Regions from separate parts of the Homo sapiens genome. Here region 1 is linked to region 2. The links come from fine-mapping of genetic effects on gene expression. A gene starts in region 2. The other region holds a variant in brackets. All regions are shown on one strand. Distances are between the middles of the regions. Region 1 overlaps LOC105372630 (a long non-coding RNA gene). Region 2 holds the start of PI3 (peptidase inhibitor 3).

What was found. PIP is the estimated chance that this variant, and not a neighbour inherited with it, causes the effect. A credible set is the group of variants that fine-mapping cannot tell apart.
Region 1: its variant is the best candidate, but not a certain one, in a credible set for the expression of PI3 in whole blood (TOPMed, PIP 0.54).

The regions. Positions count from the first base shown.
Region 1 is chr20:45,259,906-45,268,500 of GRCh38, reverse strand. The region is part of intron 2 of LOC105372630 (a long non-coding RNA gene); the gene reads right to left. Among named protein-coding and RNA genes, the nearest start is that of SLPI, 9.6 kb to the right of the region's middle. The variant G/A (reference allele first, on the strand shown) is at 4,912.
Region 2 is chr20:45,170,215-45,178,809 of GRCh38, reverse strand. It overlaps PI3 (peptidase inhibitor 3), which reads right to left and starts at 3,908. Exons shown (of 3, transcript NM_002638.4): 1 at 3,809-3,908; 2 at 2,674-2,949; 3 at 2,266-2,440. The coding sequence starts at 3,887. The coding sequence ends at 2,675. RefSeq lists an enhancer at 3,119-4,318.

The DNA.
Region 1 (8,595 bases), 90 kb before region 2:
TAAAAAATGGTTGAAATGGATGTGGATTGCATCAGTCTGTAGATTCTGCCATAGTCTCTTCTCTTCATTTAAAAAATGGTTTGTTAGGATCTCCCAGGTTTGCGGGATCTCTGGGTGGGTTGGGAATGGGCATGAGATGGCTGACGAGTCAAGCCTAGACTAGTATAGTCAGAGTCTCTCTAGAGATTATCTAAGTGTTTTCCCACCCTGTTAGACTCAATATATTTATTTATTTATCTGTTTACTTTTAAGAGACAGAGTCTTACTCTGTTGCCCATGCTGAAGTGCAATGGTGCAGTCATAGCTCCCTGTAACCTTGAACTCCTCGGTTGAAGGGGGTCTCCTGCCTCAGCCTCTCAAGTAGCTAGGACTACAGGTGCATATAATCACACCTGACTTTCCTTTCCTTTCCTTTCCTTTCCTTTCCTTTCCTTTCCTTTCCTTTCCTTTCCTTTCCTTTCCTTTCCTTTCCTTTCCCTTTCTTTCTCTCTTTCTTTCTTTCTTTCTTTCTCTCTTTCTTTCTTTCTTTCTTTCTTTCTTTCTTTCTTTCTTTCTTTCTTTCTTTCTTTCTCTTTCTTTCTTTTTCTCTTTCTTTCTTTCTTTCTTTTTTCTCTTTCTTTCTTTCCCTCCCTCCCTCCCTTCCTTCCTTCTTTCCTTCCATCCTTTCTTTCTTTTTCTTTTTTTCTTTTTGAGATGAGGTCTCATAGGCTGGTTCAAGACCAGCCTATGTTACTCCTAGCCTCAAGTGATTCTCCCGCCTCGGTCTCCCAAAGCATTGGGATTACAGGCATGAGCCACTGTACCTGGCCCATGGTCTAGGACATGGGGGATGATGGGAGGAAAGGAGAGAAGTGAGAGAGGTGGTGGGATTTGTGGCCTTGCTCTCAGCATGTGGAGTGGAAAGAATAGTGGATTTTGAGTGAGACAGATCATATCTTAAATCATAATTGTGTGAGTTATGTCCAAATTGCTCGGGAATTCATCCTTCTGAGCGTCAATTTTACCATGTATGTATGGGGTTAATATTAATTCCTTTTTTGTATGGTGGTGAGGAATAAAGGCATTGTTTGTGAGAGAAGTGCACAGTGACATCGGTCAACAACTAGTAGATATTTATTTTCCTTTAGGATCAGCTCCAGGTTCCTTGTGGCACCAATCCTCACTCCACCTCCTATTGAGAATGTTGCTGTTGTTGGTCAGGTTTAGCACTTTCTTTGGGGCACTATTCAGAAATCACACACACATGAGTGTGATCCTCTTTGATTTCATTTATCAGGAGTTGTAACACAGGTCTGAAATGAATTGCTTCAGTGGTTACCAGGCATGACCAGTTTCCTCTCCTCTCTTTGTCCTTTCTGGTTCCAGGAAGAAATTTGAAACCTGAACAAACCTCTAATCATTAAAGAATTTAAAATGGTAATTAAATTTCTCCTTTTATAAAAGAAAACAAGTTAAGAGGTTTTCACTTGGTAATTAAATCTCTTCTTTTAAAATGGGAAATAATATGAAATGTATTCATTTTTTACCAAACCTACAAGAAAGACAATTTCTATCCCAAATGATTTCAGAGACTAAAAGAAGGGAAAGCACGGATGGAAACTTTTGTGGTGCTTATCTTTGATATTGTGTGTTTATATCATAATCAGAGTTTAAGAAACTAGACTCTTTTTTCTTATGAGAATACATGGGAAAATCCAAAATGTTGGGATTTTTTGTCAGTGTTGAATTTTTTGAAGTTGATAACTGTACTGTGGTTATATAAAGGTGTCCTTATTCATAGCGAATACACACTGAAGTATTCATGGACAGAGGAGCATAATGTATACAACTTATTCTCAATGGTTGGAATAAAACATTCTATTCTCTCACACACACAAAAGAGAAAGAATGATAAAACAAATGTGGCAAAATGTTAATATTTAGTGAATCTGGGTGAAGGGAATATGGTAGTTCTTTGTACTGTTCTTCCCATTTTTTTCCATACATTTGAAATATTTCAAAGTGACAAGTATAATACATGCTAGGACATTTATTATAATAGTAGGGTATCCCTATAATAAATATAATAAATAAATAAATAAACAGATATGCAAAGATAGTTCAAGAACAGAAAATCTATCAAGGGGATTAAGCAAATTAAAAGTTTAAAGATGACCCAAATGAGTCTCTAAATAGTTTCATAAAAATCATTCTATATTGTATTCTACATTCATGTGTAATAAAAATAGAAACACCCTAGACCAGGAACAAAAGTGAACATAACTAATCTGGTAAAAGGTATTTACCAACAGTCGCAGCAAATATACTCAGTGATGACACTTTAGAAATGGCATCCTTAAAGACAGGTACAAGGGCAGAATTTCTCCCATCTCCATTTTCAGTCAATCTCATATTAGTGATCTTAGGCCAATGCAATAAAATTGGACATAAAAATAAAGAGGTATAAGGATTGGAAAGGGAGAGATAAAATTGTGAGTGTTTACAAATGATATGATTGTCTCAGGATGAAATCCAAGAGAATCAATGGGTAAACTATTCACAACAGCCATAAAATTTATGATTACCTGGAAAAATTATATGATGAAAATAAAATTTTATTAAAAGACTTGAAGAGGCCTTGAATAAATAGAGTGAGACTTATTTTTTTATACTTGGGAAGACTTACTATGGTAAATATTTTGGCTCTTCCAGGTAATTTATAGCATGGATGCAATCATAATAAAAATTCAACAGAGTTTTTAAGGACCTTGTCAAATTGACCCTAAAGTTTACATGGTAGAGTAAAAGCACAGGGATAGCCAAAACAATTCTAAACAAGCAAAACAGAAAAGACTTCTACTGCGAAGCACCAGGTTATAAAAAATATAGATGCAAATTAAAGGAGTATGGTATTGGTCTGGGAGTGAACAAATTGAGTAAGAAAACCTAGTAGAGTGCATCCATCCACATATGAAAACTGGTACAAAATTAATACAGTTTTATGATCAAAAGGGGGATCAATGATATAGGGAACAATTGGCATTCCATATTGGAAAAAAAATCAAACAAAGTCTCTACTTAAACCTTTCACAAAAATAAATTCCAGATGGATTAACGACTTAAATGTGGAAAATACAACTTTAAAAATGTGTTTATAAAATTGGAGATTGTCCTATTTTTAATCAAGATGACACCAGAGACAGTTTATGCTAACTGATGCTTCTATCTGGAGCTCACGCACCATCTGTACAGCAGGCACATCAGTTGCATGAACTGAAGAGTTGACCCTCAGTGGTTCTCTCTCCTTACCCCAGCTTTGGGCACAGGGAATCATGGCTGCTCTTCAGGCCTGGGTAAGAAGCATTATTCCTTAGACAGCCCCTATCAAATTCACCCAAAGCATTCCTTCCTCCTGTCACCTTGTATAGGAGGCCGACTCTGAGCCTTATTTTTCCTGTTTGTAAAATTGGATACTGTACTACCTGCTTTATTCATTGTTATAGGTTTAAATGTGAAAAAGCATGCAAAGCCTTTAGCACAGTGTCCAGCATAAAAAAGATGCTCAGTAATTATTAGCCACAAGTATCAGAATTATCAAAGGGAACATATTTATTAAGTGGGAAAGACAGGATTTAAAAGCTGGTCAGTCTGATTCCAAAGTCTGTGATCTTTTAATGAATGTCACTGAGATCAAGCGAAAGGATATAGGATAATTTGGGAGATGTTAGTCCAGGCTGTGGAATTGGGGGTCTGCATCCTCCTTGTTCTAGAGTTTGATAGGTCATTTTTCTTTCTCCTCTTGGCCTCCCCTGTAGGTTCCAGCATTGCTGACAATTGCCTAATTTCCAATACTCATTCTTTCTCCCAACACTTTAAAATTGTAAAACAAAACATGCATTAGGAAAAGCACATAAAATAAGAGTAAGATTTAATGAACAATTACAAAGCAAACACATGTTCAACCGCCACAGAGGCCATGTTCTTTTTTTAATATGTCTTATCAAGGCCCACAACTTCCTTAGTGACAAGTCATGGCTTCTTTTTTGTTGGTCCTTGAGTAAATGGATGTCTCCCTTTGGGGAGATATGCCAGCCCGTGGGGGAAAAATGTGAGAAACATCTTGGTCTTCAATCCGACACTGTCACAAATCATTTCTTGGGAGGGGAGGTTTCGAATGCTCCTGCCACCACTGAATTTTCTTGGCTTCTACTTCTGGTTCAGACATTTGCTGCTGTTGCCCCAGATCCCAGCTCTCCCCATCCATGAGTTCTCTAACTCTTCTTTGTACTGTTTTTTTCTGAGGGCAACCACCTTTCTCAGTCTCTCCAGAATTGCTAAGAAGAATCCAACCTGCACAAATGGCAAAATTCGAGCCAAGGGAATTCAAGCCTTCTGGTAAAAGAAGGAGGTGGACACCCAGCCTCTCCCTTGAAGTGCATTGCTGCTCTTAGACCAACAGGGATGACTGGACATGCTGCCCCTCCCATGTTTTTATTCCTTTCTCAGCTTCTCCTTGCCCTGTCTCCACAAGTGATTTTTTTTCTTTTAAATTTTTATTTTTTTCTTTTATTTTTCTTTAGAGATGGGGTCTCGCTATTTTGCCCAGGCTGGTCTTGAAATACTGGGCTCAAACGATCCTCCCACCTTGGCCTCCCAAAGTGCTAGGATTACAGACACCAGAATAGAGATATAATTGCCTCCATTTTCTATGGGAAAATCTTAAGGCACACTCTAGGTTTGCAAATCATGCTAATTCCTTTCCAGCATGCACCAATTTATAACTTGTATGTCTTATTTTGTAGGGGATGACCTTGGTTAGCTGTCTAATTGAGGAAGACCTTAAACATAAATGCACATAGAGGCATTGCTGATTGATAATTTGATTTATGTTCATGGGAGGAAAAACAACATCAAACAAGAGAGCTATGGTTA[G/A]GTGCTTATTGTTTATTGATGCTAAGTCTCTTTCTATGTCTTTTAAAACAAGCAATGAGGCTGAATTTTCAGAGAATGCAGATACCTAACAATTGGCCTAAGGGTTGTCCTGCCTAATTTGGTAAAAAAGTGGCAGACAACTGTACATTATTTAGATTTACCAGATGAACATATAAAAAAAACCAAGTAGAAATACTGGAAATAAATGATTATTGAAATAAAAATTCATTACTTACTAGATAGAACTAGCATTCGACCCAGCAATCTCATTACTGGATATATACCCAAACGAATAGAAATTGTTCTACCATGAAGACACATGCGTGCATATATTCATTGCAGCAGTATTCAAAATAGCAAAGACATGGAATTAATCTAGATGCCCATCAATGGTGGACTGGATAAAGAAACTGTGATACATAAACACCATGGAATACTATGCAGGCATAAGAAAGAATGAAATAATGTCCTTTGTAGCAACATGGATGGAGCCGGAGGCCATTATCCTAAGTGAATTAAAGCAGCAACAGAAAAACCAAAAACAGAGTATCACATCATCTCACTTATAAGTGTGAGCTAAACACTGAATACACGTGGACACAAAGAAGAGAACAATAGGCATTGGGGCTTACTTGAGAGTGAAGGGTTCGAGGAGGGTTAGGACTGAAAGAGTACCTATTGGGTATTACCTGGGTGACAAAGTTATCTGTACATCAAATATTAACATGCAATTTACCCATGTTAACAAGCTGCACATGTACCCTTGAACCTAAAATAAAAGTTGGAAAAACATTGGATAAAGTAGAGTTTAGACTGGATGCAGCTGAAAGAAAACTTGGTGAATTTTTAGCCAGTACTGAGAAATTCACCCAGAGCCCAGCACAGAGAGATGAAGAGAAAAATATAAGAGAAAGGCAAAACAACGATAATAAAAATAGAAGGTCTAGTAAATATCCGGTGGAAGTTCCAGAAAGAGACTGGAGAGAATGGCACAGAAGTAATATTCAAAGAGATAAAGAAAGGACTTTTTCTTTTAGGATTAAATTAAGACATGCATCTTCAGACTAAAAGTGCATATTTGGAGTAAAGCAGAATAAATAAAAGGCAAACATGACTCGGCGAGATTTCTGACAATAGTTACTAGTTCATGCTTTTATATGAAGCAAATGGACCAGGAGCCAACTAAACATGAAAACCAAGCCTCATAATGGCCACTGATTGTTCATGTCGATCCCCACATCCTGCTGCACCTATATAAAGTGAATTCTTGAAAAGGTGCAGATGCCCTTCCTTCCCCAACAAAAGGGCATCCTCTGCAATACTCCTCCAAGATGTAGCCATGGAAGGTGACAGGCAAAGGAGAGGCTCCCAGACAGCAGAACTGGATTCTTCAGATTTATTGAGTAAGGAAATCACTCCAACATTAGGTAGGAAGTCCTCACATCCCTGTCTTACAGGATGTACAATCCGTATTACGGGCCAGTGACAATTTGTATATATCTTCCTATATTTCCCTTTTGCAAATAGGACTTTTTATTGCAGTCATTCCGCCCTCAATCTACCATTCTATATTGGGTGCATTTGAAGTGGTTAAATTTACTTAAGCTTATTAAACTTAATCTGTGAAGACTATAAATTTAACTGACAGAACTGCTTTCACCCACATTGCAGAACTGGAGATGAATATAGTACCCAGAGAGACATTTTGTTGTCTTTCTTTGGGAGAGAGGTTGAGTGCATTTTATGTAGATGTTGGTTTAGAAAGTATTTGAAAAAATTTAGTTATGTAGATTTCAGTAACCAAAAGGGGTATACTTTAGAGAACACTCACTGCTATTTTTACCACTGAGCATCCTTTCACCCTTCTGCTGGTAGCTATATCCTAATTTACCCCAGGAGAATCATTCCCTCTCCCACTCTGAAAATTCCACTGGATTTGGGGATGAGTACACATGGTGATGAGTATTGTGGCCTTGGCTTAAACCAATCGGTACATCCCAGTTCCCTGGTCCCAATCATTGGTTTAAAGATTTAATTCTAGCCACTCCTAGTTAGTTGAGTTGCCCAGAAAAAGCCCTTACTAGACATGAATTTGGGAAGATGGGAGGAGATGCCACAGCCATATTATAAATGCTAAGAGGGAGCCTGACTAAGAATGAAGCCAACATGAAGAGAAGTGCCGTGGAGAGAATCTTGTGGGAGCTATAGTTTGAGCCCTTGCTCAAATTGCACCTGAAAATAGCACCTATTCTCCTTGGTTTATTCAGCACTCTCACTTCTTGCATCTTTAAGATCATTTTTTAACTTTCCGCCGAAGGATTATCTGGACAGTGCTACTATCCCAGGCATCTCCAACTCTGGGTTTAGGACTAAAGAAGTCTTGGAGGGACCATAATGAAGCAGTATGTGGCTGAATTCTGAAGACTTGGGTTTGAATCTTACTGTACCTCTGACTTGCTGTGTCATCTTGGGCAAGTGGGCTTACTCTCTGAGGTTCCATTTCCTTTTCTTTAAAATGGGATATAAAAGTGCTTGGTCCACTGTGAAGTTCGGGGTCATGCATGGTGTCTATTCCTAGGCTTTTTATTCAGGAAAGTTGGCTCTCTGGGTCCTGAGAGTCCTCTATAAGGCAAAAACCCAGCTAGAATCTAAGACTTGGGGCCTCTAAAGAGCATCTGTTCCAATGCACTGATCTTACAAATAGGGAAACTGAGGCCCAGAGAAAGGAAGGTTCTACATCAAATTGGACAGAGCTGGGATTCCAGCCCAGTGTCCTGAGTCCAGTATCATCGTCATGCCTCTCTAGCTGACCACAGGGTCCCAGAGGCCAGAAGTGATGCTATCAAGTGTGAGTCTTTCATGGTCTTTCTGGCACTCTGCTCTGTTTGGGCCACAGAGGTGTCCTCATAGTGGTGCTCTCCACTGACCCCAGGCTTAGACACCAAACTCTCCCATAGTAATGATCAACCAGGCATCGTCTGCCATGTCCATCTAAGACCCTACCATCTCCTGATCTGCAACAGGAACGTTTCTCTGAGACTCACTTTTTCTCATCTGTAAACTGACTTGACATTAGTATCTACCAAGTTTTGTGTGACGCTTAAATGTAACAAAACATGCTAAACCAAAGGAGATGGATTCTAGTGATTTGGGGACATCTTTTCCCAAGCTGCTTATAGCTCTGTTCCACAGTTTAATAATCCAGTTTTTCTATTCCCGGTTTTCTTCCATGGGTAGTCATGATGGCAGTTTCTTAATGCCGAGCACTGTTTTTCTTTTTGTTTTACCAGGTCCCTAAAGCATTTCCTCATGACATACCACAGACTTTGTTTCTTTAACCTTAGGTTAACTGGATCCCTTCCTCTAGGGAGACAGACATGCAGTTTTTGAAGGAATAAAGTGCAGAGCCCTGATCTGTACACCAACCATCTCTTGCATGGTAATAAGTATGAAGACACCTGAGATCCACCGTTGTTGGTTAATTTCTCCTGCCAATTCTTTGATGGTGGATGTTTTTCACCCTTGCCCAGATTCTGCTTTACTGCCCTTCACCCATTCACTTGTGGGCCTAAAAGGACAGTTCATATTTCCAGATTTTATTAGGACTATGATGAGCAGTAGGGGAGGAAGTACAAACATTGCAGAATTCAAACTTTCTTGGGTGGGAAAATGATAAGGAGTGGC
Region 2 (8,595 bases):
CTGGATGGAAGAAACCACTGGTCTCTGTGAGATCTTGAGTTGCTCAGCTACCTTGCTAGGCATGGACTGTCATCCTGGCCTGCTTCCTGAGCGAAAAGAAAGTGTCTTTTTGGAACCTTTCAATTTTTCTCTCTCAGTGGCTTAATCTTTGCCTGAATTCAGACCAGAGTTAGTTCTTTTGTTTTTGCAAATAGTGAACCTACCGTCTGAATCTTGTTTCTTAAAAAATTCAAGTTTTCTTCATTGTTTTGGAACTTGACATTGATCTTTACCTGAATTAGATATAATGAGGCCTGATTCTGGGTTTTCTTTTGTTTTCTATTGATTTCTCAACCTGACTATTCTTCTAATAAAAACAACATATTGATTATTGTTACTTTGCAAAACTTTTTTTTAAGTCTAGGAGGTTCCAGAGCCCTAGGGTTAATCTTCATTTGTAAACATCTACGCCTATTCACAAGAATTTATGCTTCCCCATAAACTTAAGTATGGTTTCAAGTTCCCTTAACCTCCATAACCACACCATATTAAAAATGGATTTTGGGTATAATACACCTTAGGGATAAATTAAATAAATATTAAATATTGAGTAAATAGTGACATCTTCACCACATAGTCTTCATGTATTGTGATATGTGCATATTCATGTATTGTGAGTATGTGTATATTCAAGCATTTTTATATGCCTCTGAAAAGTTACATAGATTTCTCTTCTAAAGCTCTGCCTCTCTCTTGTTTATTTATAGCAATGGTGTGATTTTGTTGATATTAATAATAGAAAATGCAGCATGTCTAACTGATTGTTGCTAGCATATAATAAAAATATCATTTACTATCACTTACTAACCTTGTGGCTTTTAATGGTTACTTAATCTCTCTTAGCTTCAATCTTTTTACAAAATTAGAAAATAAAATATGTATAATGGCCATCTGAAAGGGACTTATGAAAAATAAGTGACAATACATGTAATCTACTAGGTATAGGAAATAGAGTAAATATTAAAAAACAGAAACCATTATTTCCTCCAATGATGTATTTTGTATTTGTCAAGCCAGAAGTTTGGGTACTGCTGTCACCTGTACTCCAAGACACCCTAGTGTCAAAGCCCTACAGTTGTTCGGACTAGCCTCTGAACAATAGGGAAAAATCATGGCTCAGATGCTCGTGGATGGGGCAAAGTGGTGCAGGGATCCACATTGTCTCACCCCAAGCCTCTGCTCCCCATGTCATCTCAGAGCAAGAACCCAATACACAAAGAAGAGCTGTTTCATATCCCAGAGTGGCAGGATTAGACCTTCCTTTGCAGAATAATTATACCTTACCCCCTCAACTGAAATAGACCTCTGAGGCCTGGAAGGGGGACATACATTTGCCAGAGGTCACCCAATACGTGGGGAGGCAAAGCCAGTGCTGAGATCACCTGACTGTCAAGCCTGTGCTTATTCCCCTTCACCCAGGCTGCTCCCCTCCTGGGGGCTGTGGCCTTCTCTGAGAGTTTCCTTGTGCAATCGCAGTGGGACGAGTGGGTCAACAGGAGAGCCATGAGGTTGCTCATATTCCTGCCCCTTTCTCCACTACTCAAGTCTGCCCTGCCCCCAACATGTATGTCTCCAGAGAATGCTATTCACCCAAACCTCTGACACCATAGTATGAAGGACTTAGTGTATCTTGCCTCCTCATTCACATCTTAAAACAGAAATCTGGAAGAGAATATTGCTTAACCTAAAGGAATGCTACTTCATGGAGGAATCTCAGGCATAAACCAGTGAAATTCTAAAGAGCAGGAGTTTCGCAGCATCTGTAACATCATCCTTTCTATGTGGTGTTGAAAAGATATAGATTCCTGGGAAACATTAATGAGAAGGAAGTGGGGAGCTGTAGTTGCAGCCATAAGGGTTGGCTGGTCACACTGGTAAGGCCGACAGTAGCCAGGTCAGGACTGATGGTGGATTGGAAAAAAAAGACCTGCTTATGGTTTATGTAATGTTTATTTATTTTTTGTGTTTTGTGTTTTTCCTGGTCCTTGGCCAAAGGCAAGATTTCCATATTTCCATTTCCTGGTGAAAAGGAGCTGGCAGCACTGGGGCTGATTATTGGATTTGTAATATGAAGCCCTAGCAATGTGCCTCCTGTTTCCTCCCCCCGCCCTGCTCTCTTTCACCATGGGACCGTTTCCCCTCTTCACTGGAGAGAAGAAGTCCCAATTCTACATCCATTTCCCCAAAGCATCCAGGAGCCCAGAAGTCATAGGAACCAGAAACAAGTGGAGCAGAAGGAACTCTTTATTGGAAAGTGGATGAGAGAGGCAGCTCCAGCCGTGGGCATCCTGAATGGGAGGAAGAATGGACAGTGTGGGAAGGGGAAGGGCAGCAGGGACTTAGGACCAGATGGGGCCTGTAGCTCTGGGGACGGCACAGGTGCAGCAAGGACCGGCTCCCTCTGTGGAAGAGAAGAGTATCAGAGGTGAGAGTCAGCACATCAAAGCACTCAGAGGCAGTGAGGAAGACAGATCATCCTTCTAGGCACTCTGGTTATAGCCTCTCAGACCCCTCAGTCTCCCAGTCTTTCTGTCACCTCCCACAACCTCCCTCCCACCAACCTGGGATGCTTCCCCACCGCTCAGCCTTCTTTTGTGTCTTCAGGGGTCTCCTCGTTCTCCAGCTAGTGCTCACCTCACTGGGGAACGAAACAGGCCATCCCGCAAGAGCCTTCACAGCACTTCTTGATTCCTGGGCAGTCAGTATCTTTCAAGCAGCGGTTAGGGGGATTCAACATGGCGCACCGGATCAAGATAATGGGGCAGGAGCCAGGCTTAGTGGAGACTGGACCTTTGACTGGCTCTTGCGCTTTGACTTTATCTTGACCTTTAACTGAAACTTGTCCTTTAACGGGATCTTGTCCATTGAATGGAACACGGCCTTTGACAGTGTCTTGACCTTTAACAGGAACTGTTAAAAGAAGAAACGAGCCCACATTTATACCCAGTAAGCCTCTGCTTCAGCTGCCATGTCTTTCCTCTGGGTCTGGGTCCATCCACTGCTTACTGCAGCATCCTCAAACCATGGCCTGAGTAGGGAAGGTACACCTCTGGGAGCTACACTCTTGGAAGGCTCTTCCTTTTTTGGGGTGGTCTACTGGACCAGAGTTCCCTTGAGTATTTGTTTCTTCCCCCTTCCTCCACTCCAAGTCTCTCAGGAGCAGTGGTCAGACTGGGGTGACACCCAGCAGTGAAGAGGACACATTGTCATTTGTTAGGAAGTGCATTGGAGTAGGAAAGAACCCTGAGCCACATACTAGGAGACTTGAGCCCCATCCTGGCTCTGGGAATTACCTTGGCAATTGCTCACTCATTTCTACATTTTTGGTTCCCTCCTTATAAAATGGGGGTCCTCAAACAACATGATTCCTGAAGGCTTGTTGTTTCTTAACCTCCTTTTAGAGTACTGATTACTCCAGTGCTTTTATGGGGCAGAGAAACGGGGGACTGTGTCCACACCCAAGGTTTAAAATCCTGGAGTTCATTATTTTATTGCACATTCTGCACAGGTATTGACATCTGAGGCCAAGGCCACATACCAACATTACTTCCACAAACAGTCCTGATATCTCAGTCACTGAGGTGGAAAGCACGTGGAGTCCACCAGCCAAAGTCCTATTTTTTCTGAATATGATGGCAAAGAACAGAAAGCTGAAATCTGGGCTCCAGTGCTGCCTACTGCTTCAGAAGTGCTCCCTGTCCTGGCCCAGGGTGTCCCAGAGGGTCTCCCCTTAGTCCAACCCAGCCCAGCAGGTCACCTGTTCACTCACCTCCCGTGACAGCTGCCTCTAGAACCAGCGTCCCAGCGATGAGGAACACCACCACGATCAAGAAGCTGCTGGCCCTCATGGTGTCAGGAAGGTGTTTGGCTAAGAGCTAAGGCCATACCAATCTTTATGCAGTCCAGCTTGGCCTGGCTCCAGGGGCGGGTCTGTGGTATTTACAAGGGATAATTCCTTAGCTGTATTGGGAAATATCCACCCCATTCTGGGAGGGACCTGGGGGCTTTCCCTCAGGATTATTCACAGGAAGAACTAATGGACATTACATCACATCATCTCTGATTGTCCCAAGAGTTTTCCTACTTTCTCACAGAGTAGAAGTGCTGGCTCACTTATTAGGTAACATTACAATGAAATTCTTCATGTTTTGAAATACAGTGAGACCCAAGAAGAGAAAGGAATCACCGAAGGTTATTCAGCAAGTCACTGGTAGATCCAGTCTTGATTACAAAACCAAGGTGTTTCTCCATTATGCTCTGGTGCTACAAACCCCACCCAGATCTACTTTATCATTTTACCACTCCCAGCATCAAACTGGGCATTTCCTTCCTTCTTCCCTGGTCCTGCAAAAAACTCTGTAAGACAAATTTGCCTTGAATACATAATGACTAATTATTGCACTTTGCTGTTTCAGAGACGGCCTTTCAGATGCATCAAGAAAGTAATTGGAAGGTGGAATTCTAGGTCTGAAGAGGGATGATGCCCTTGAAATCACAGTGGTAGGGAGAAAATAATCAGAAAGTAGTAGAAAACATGTATCATGTATACATTGGACATCTACAGTGTGTGTGTCCAGCATGCCTCCCCACTTCTTTGAACAGCACCCTGTTTCTTGTGAAGAATTGTTGTCTCTTTGAACCATCAACTTGTGAGTCTAATGGGGACTGCTAATCATGAAAGCCTGACCCCTGACCACAGGTAGGGGTGTGTGTGTGTGTGTGTGTGTGTGAGTGTGTGTGTGTGTGTTGTGTGTGAGACTTGGTCTGGTCTATTAACATATTTTATTTGAATGAGTAATGAAAGGGGAAAACGGGGGTTCCTTCTTCTGGAAAAGGTGATATATATGAACCAGGGAATTCCAGAAGTGGTTATCTAAGTCTGGGGGTGGAGATCAATTGTCTGAGAAAAACGACTCTAATACACTGAGACAAGGAGAGAAGTGATGGTGAGAGAAGATTCAGATGACACAGCCAGGTTTCCCTCCTTTACCTTGAGAGCAGTTCTTCACACACCCTTCTCATGGTTGGGTTATGAGGCAATAAATTAGCCCTCTGCTTCAGCTAGTCTGACTTACTATTCTGTCATTGTTACCAAAAGTTCTGAGTAATAGAAATGAATATCCTGAAGTTGGGTATTGTCAGGGACAGAATCTGAGTTAAGAAAGTCACTGAGTTGAGGTGGAGTTAAGGCAGGGAAGGTAACAAACTAATTATTGGACACTAATTCAGCTGGTGAAATCCCCACCCCTTGTCGATTTAGACTCTGACCACATGCCCACCAAGCCTGAAACTGAGGGAGACATAAACGAATGTCAGACTGTGGAAGCCTTTGGCTACCTTACACAAAAGCTCATTGTACAATAAGCCATACAAACAAATAAAAAGCTCACAGAAAATACCTATATTCTTTAAAGAATAGCATTAAAATGAGCTGCCAGGTAAAGGAGGAGAATATTTGCTATATCTATGCTCCATGCCTCTCCTCAGTTGCTTCATTCTCCTTCCTCCCCAGAGATAACTGCTTCCTAAGATTTTATGGTAATTAGCCCTTGCTTTCCTTTATAGTTATGCCACTTCTGTCTGTATTCTGAAATATATATTCAGTTTAGTATACTTTTTCAATTTGTATGTAAATGAAATCTAAGGTATAGTGTTCATATGTCCTGCTTATGTTGCTCAACATTATATTTTTGAGAGTCATCCATTTTGAAGTCTACACCTGTAGTTCATCATTTTCACTGCTGTACAGTATTCTATGAAAAATACCAAAAATGTTATATATTCATTCTACTGTCAATATACATTGGATATTTCTAGGTTTTAGCTATTATAGTGTTGCTATGAATATTCTTGTACATATCTCTTGCAGAACATAGGTATGCATTTATTTTGGATATATGGTTAGGAATGGAATTGCTGGATCACAGAGTACAGATCACAGAGTATAGATACATCCAGCTGTCATAAATACTGCAATCAATTTTCCAACATCATTGTACCAATTCACACTGCTATCAGCAATGTGTGAGCATTCCATTTGCTCCATAATCTCACCAATGCCTCATATGATTTGCCTTTTCATTAGCCATTCAGGTGGACATCTTGTGGGATTTCCTGTGATTTGAATTTACACTTTCCTAATAACTGGTGAAGCTGACCCATTTTTAATACTCCTTTTTTTTTTTTTTTTTTTTTTGAGATGGAATTTCGCTCTTGTCACCCAGGCTGGAGTTCAATGGCACAATCTCAGCTCACTGCAACCTCCACCTCCCAGGTTCAAGTGATTCTCTTGCCTCAGCCTCCCAAGTAGCTGGGATTACAGGCACATGCCACCATGCCCAGCTAATTTTTATATTTTGCAGTTTCACCATGTTGGTCAGGCTTGTCTCGAACCGCTGACCTCAGATGATGCACCTGCCTTGGCCTCCCAAAGTGCTAGGATTACAGACATGAGCCACTGCACCCGGCCCATTTTTAATATTTCTATTATCCATTTGGCTATCCTCTTTTGTGAAGTGCCAATTCAAGTATCTTACCTTTTATTTACTTATTTATTTAATTTCAACTTTTATTTTAGATTTGAATGGGTTGTTTATCTTTTCTTATTGATTTGTAGTAGAAAAGAAACTTTTATGCATTACTAATGAGAGTCTATATTGGTGAAACATTTAAAAACAGTTTGACATCAGCTAGTAAAATTGAATGTGTACACAATCTATAATTCAGCAATTGCACTCCTAAAGATTTAATTAAGGAAAATATTTCCACATGTTTACCAAGAAACATGCACAATAATGTTCATAAAAGTACTGTTTTTAACAATAACATACTGGAAACAGTCCATGTTACCAATACTAAAATACTGGATAAATATGTCATGACATATTAATGCATAAATATGTCATGACATATTAATGCAAGGAAGTATTATACAATTATGAAAATAACTGAATTACAGCCATGCACAATATGACCATAATTAAAATAATGTTGAATAAACAACACAAGTCCACAGTGACAATATTTAGAATTACCCACTTGTCATAAAACTCAAATGAAGGAGAACTGGGAAATATATTGCCTAGGCATATTTACATATGAAGCAAAGCTCAAAAAGGGATACATAAAAAATGAAAAAACTATAAAAATGACATACAAGATAGTGGCTAACTCTGGAAACGAGAGAAGAAAACATTCTGGATGGGTGAGAAGGACACGGGTTGATTTAAGTTGTTGGTTATTAGTAATGTTCTAGTTCTTTGATTGCTTGGAGAGAGAGAGAGAGAGAGAAAGCTGCAGAGCGAATCATTTATAGACTACCTTAGCTTTCAATAAACCCACATTGCTACCCTCGCAAGTTGTTTCCAATATTTTGCCATTACAAACTATACCACATGTGGCCTTTCTTAGCTTGCTTTCTTGTGAACCAGATTCCCAGAAGTATATTTGCTTATACAAAGGTGAAATGCATTTGAAATTTTGATAATATTGCCATATTTCCCTTGATAGGGGTTGTACCATATTGTAATCCCACCAGTAGTGGATAAACTTGCCTGCTGTTTCCATCAAGCCTCATGAACAGACTGTGTGTCTAATTTTGGGGTTTTATTTTTAACTTTTATTTTAGTTTCAGGGGTACATGTGCAGGTTTGTTGTATAGGTAAATTTCATGTCATGGGGGGGTTCGTGTGCAGAAGTATTTCATCACCAGGTAATCAGCATAGTACTCGATTCGTGTTTTGATCCTCACGCTCCTCCCATTCTCTACCCTCAAGTAGGCCCTAGTGTCCATTGTTCCCTTCTTTGTGTCCATATGTACTCAATGTTCAGTTTTCATTTATACGTGAGAAAATGTGGTATTTTCTTTTCTGTTCTTGTGAAAGTTTGCTTAGGATAATGGCCTCCAGCTCCATCCATGTTGCTGCAAAGGACATGATCTTGTTCTTTTTTATGACTCGTAGTATTCTATGGTGTTTACATACCACATTTTCTTTATCCAGTCTATCATTGATGAGCAATTAGGTTGATTCTATGTCTTTGATACTGTGAATAGTTCTGTGATTCACATACTACATGGATGTGTCTTTATGATAGAATGATTTATATTCCTTTGGGTATATAACCATTAATGGAATATCTTGGGTTGAATGGTAATTCTGTTTTAAGTTCTTTGAGAAATTGCCATACTGCTTTCCATGCTGGCTGAACTAATTTACATTCCTACCAGCAGTGTATAAATGTTCCCTTTTCTCTACAACCTTGACAGCATATGTTATGTTATAACGACTGGTGTGAGATGCTATCTCAATTACTGTTTGGATTTTCATTTCTCTAATGATCTGTGATGTTGAGCATTTTTTCATTTGTTTGTTGGCAACATGTATGTTTTCTTTTGAGAAGTTTCTGTTCATGTCCTTTGCCCACTTTCTAATGGGGTTGTCTGTTTTTTGCTTGTTAACTGGTTTAAGTTCCTTATAGATTCTGGATATTAGACCTTTGTTGGACACATAGCTCACAAATATTTTCTTCTATTCTGTAGGTTGTTGGTTTACTGTG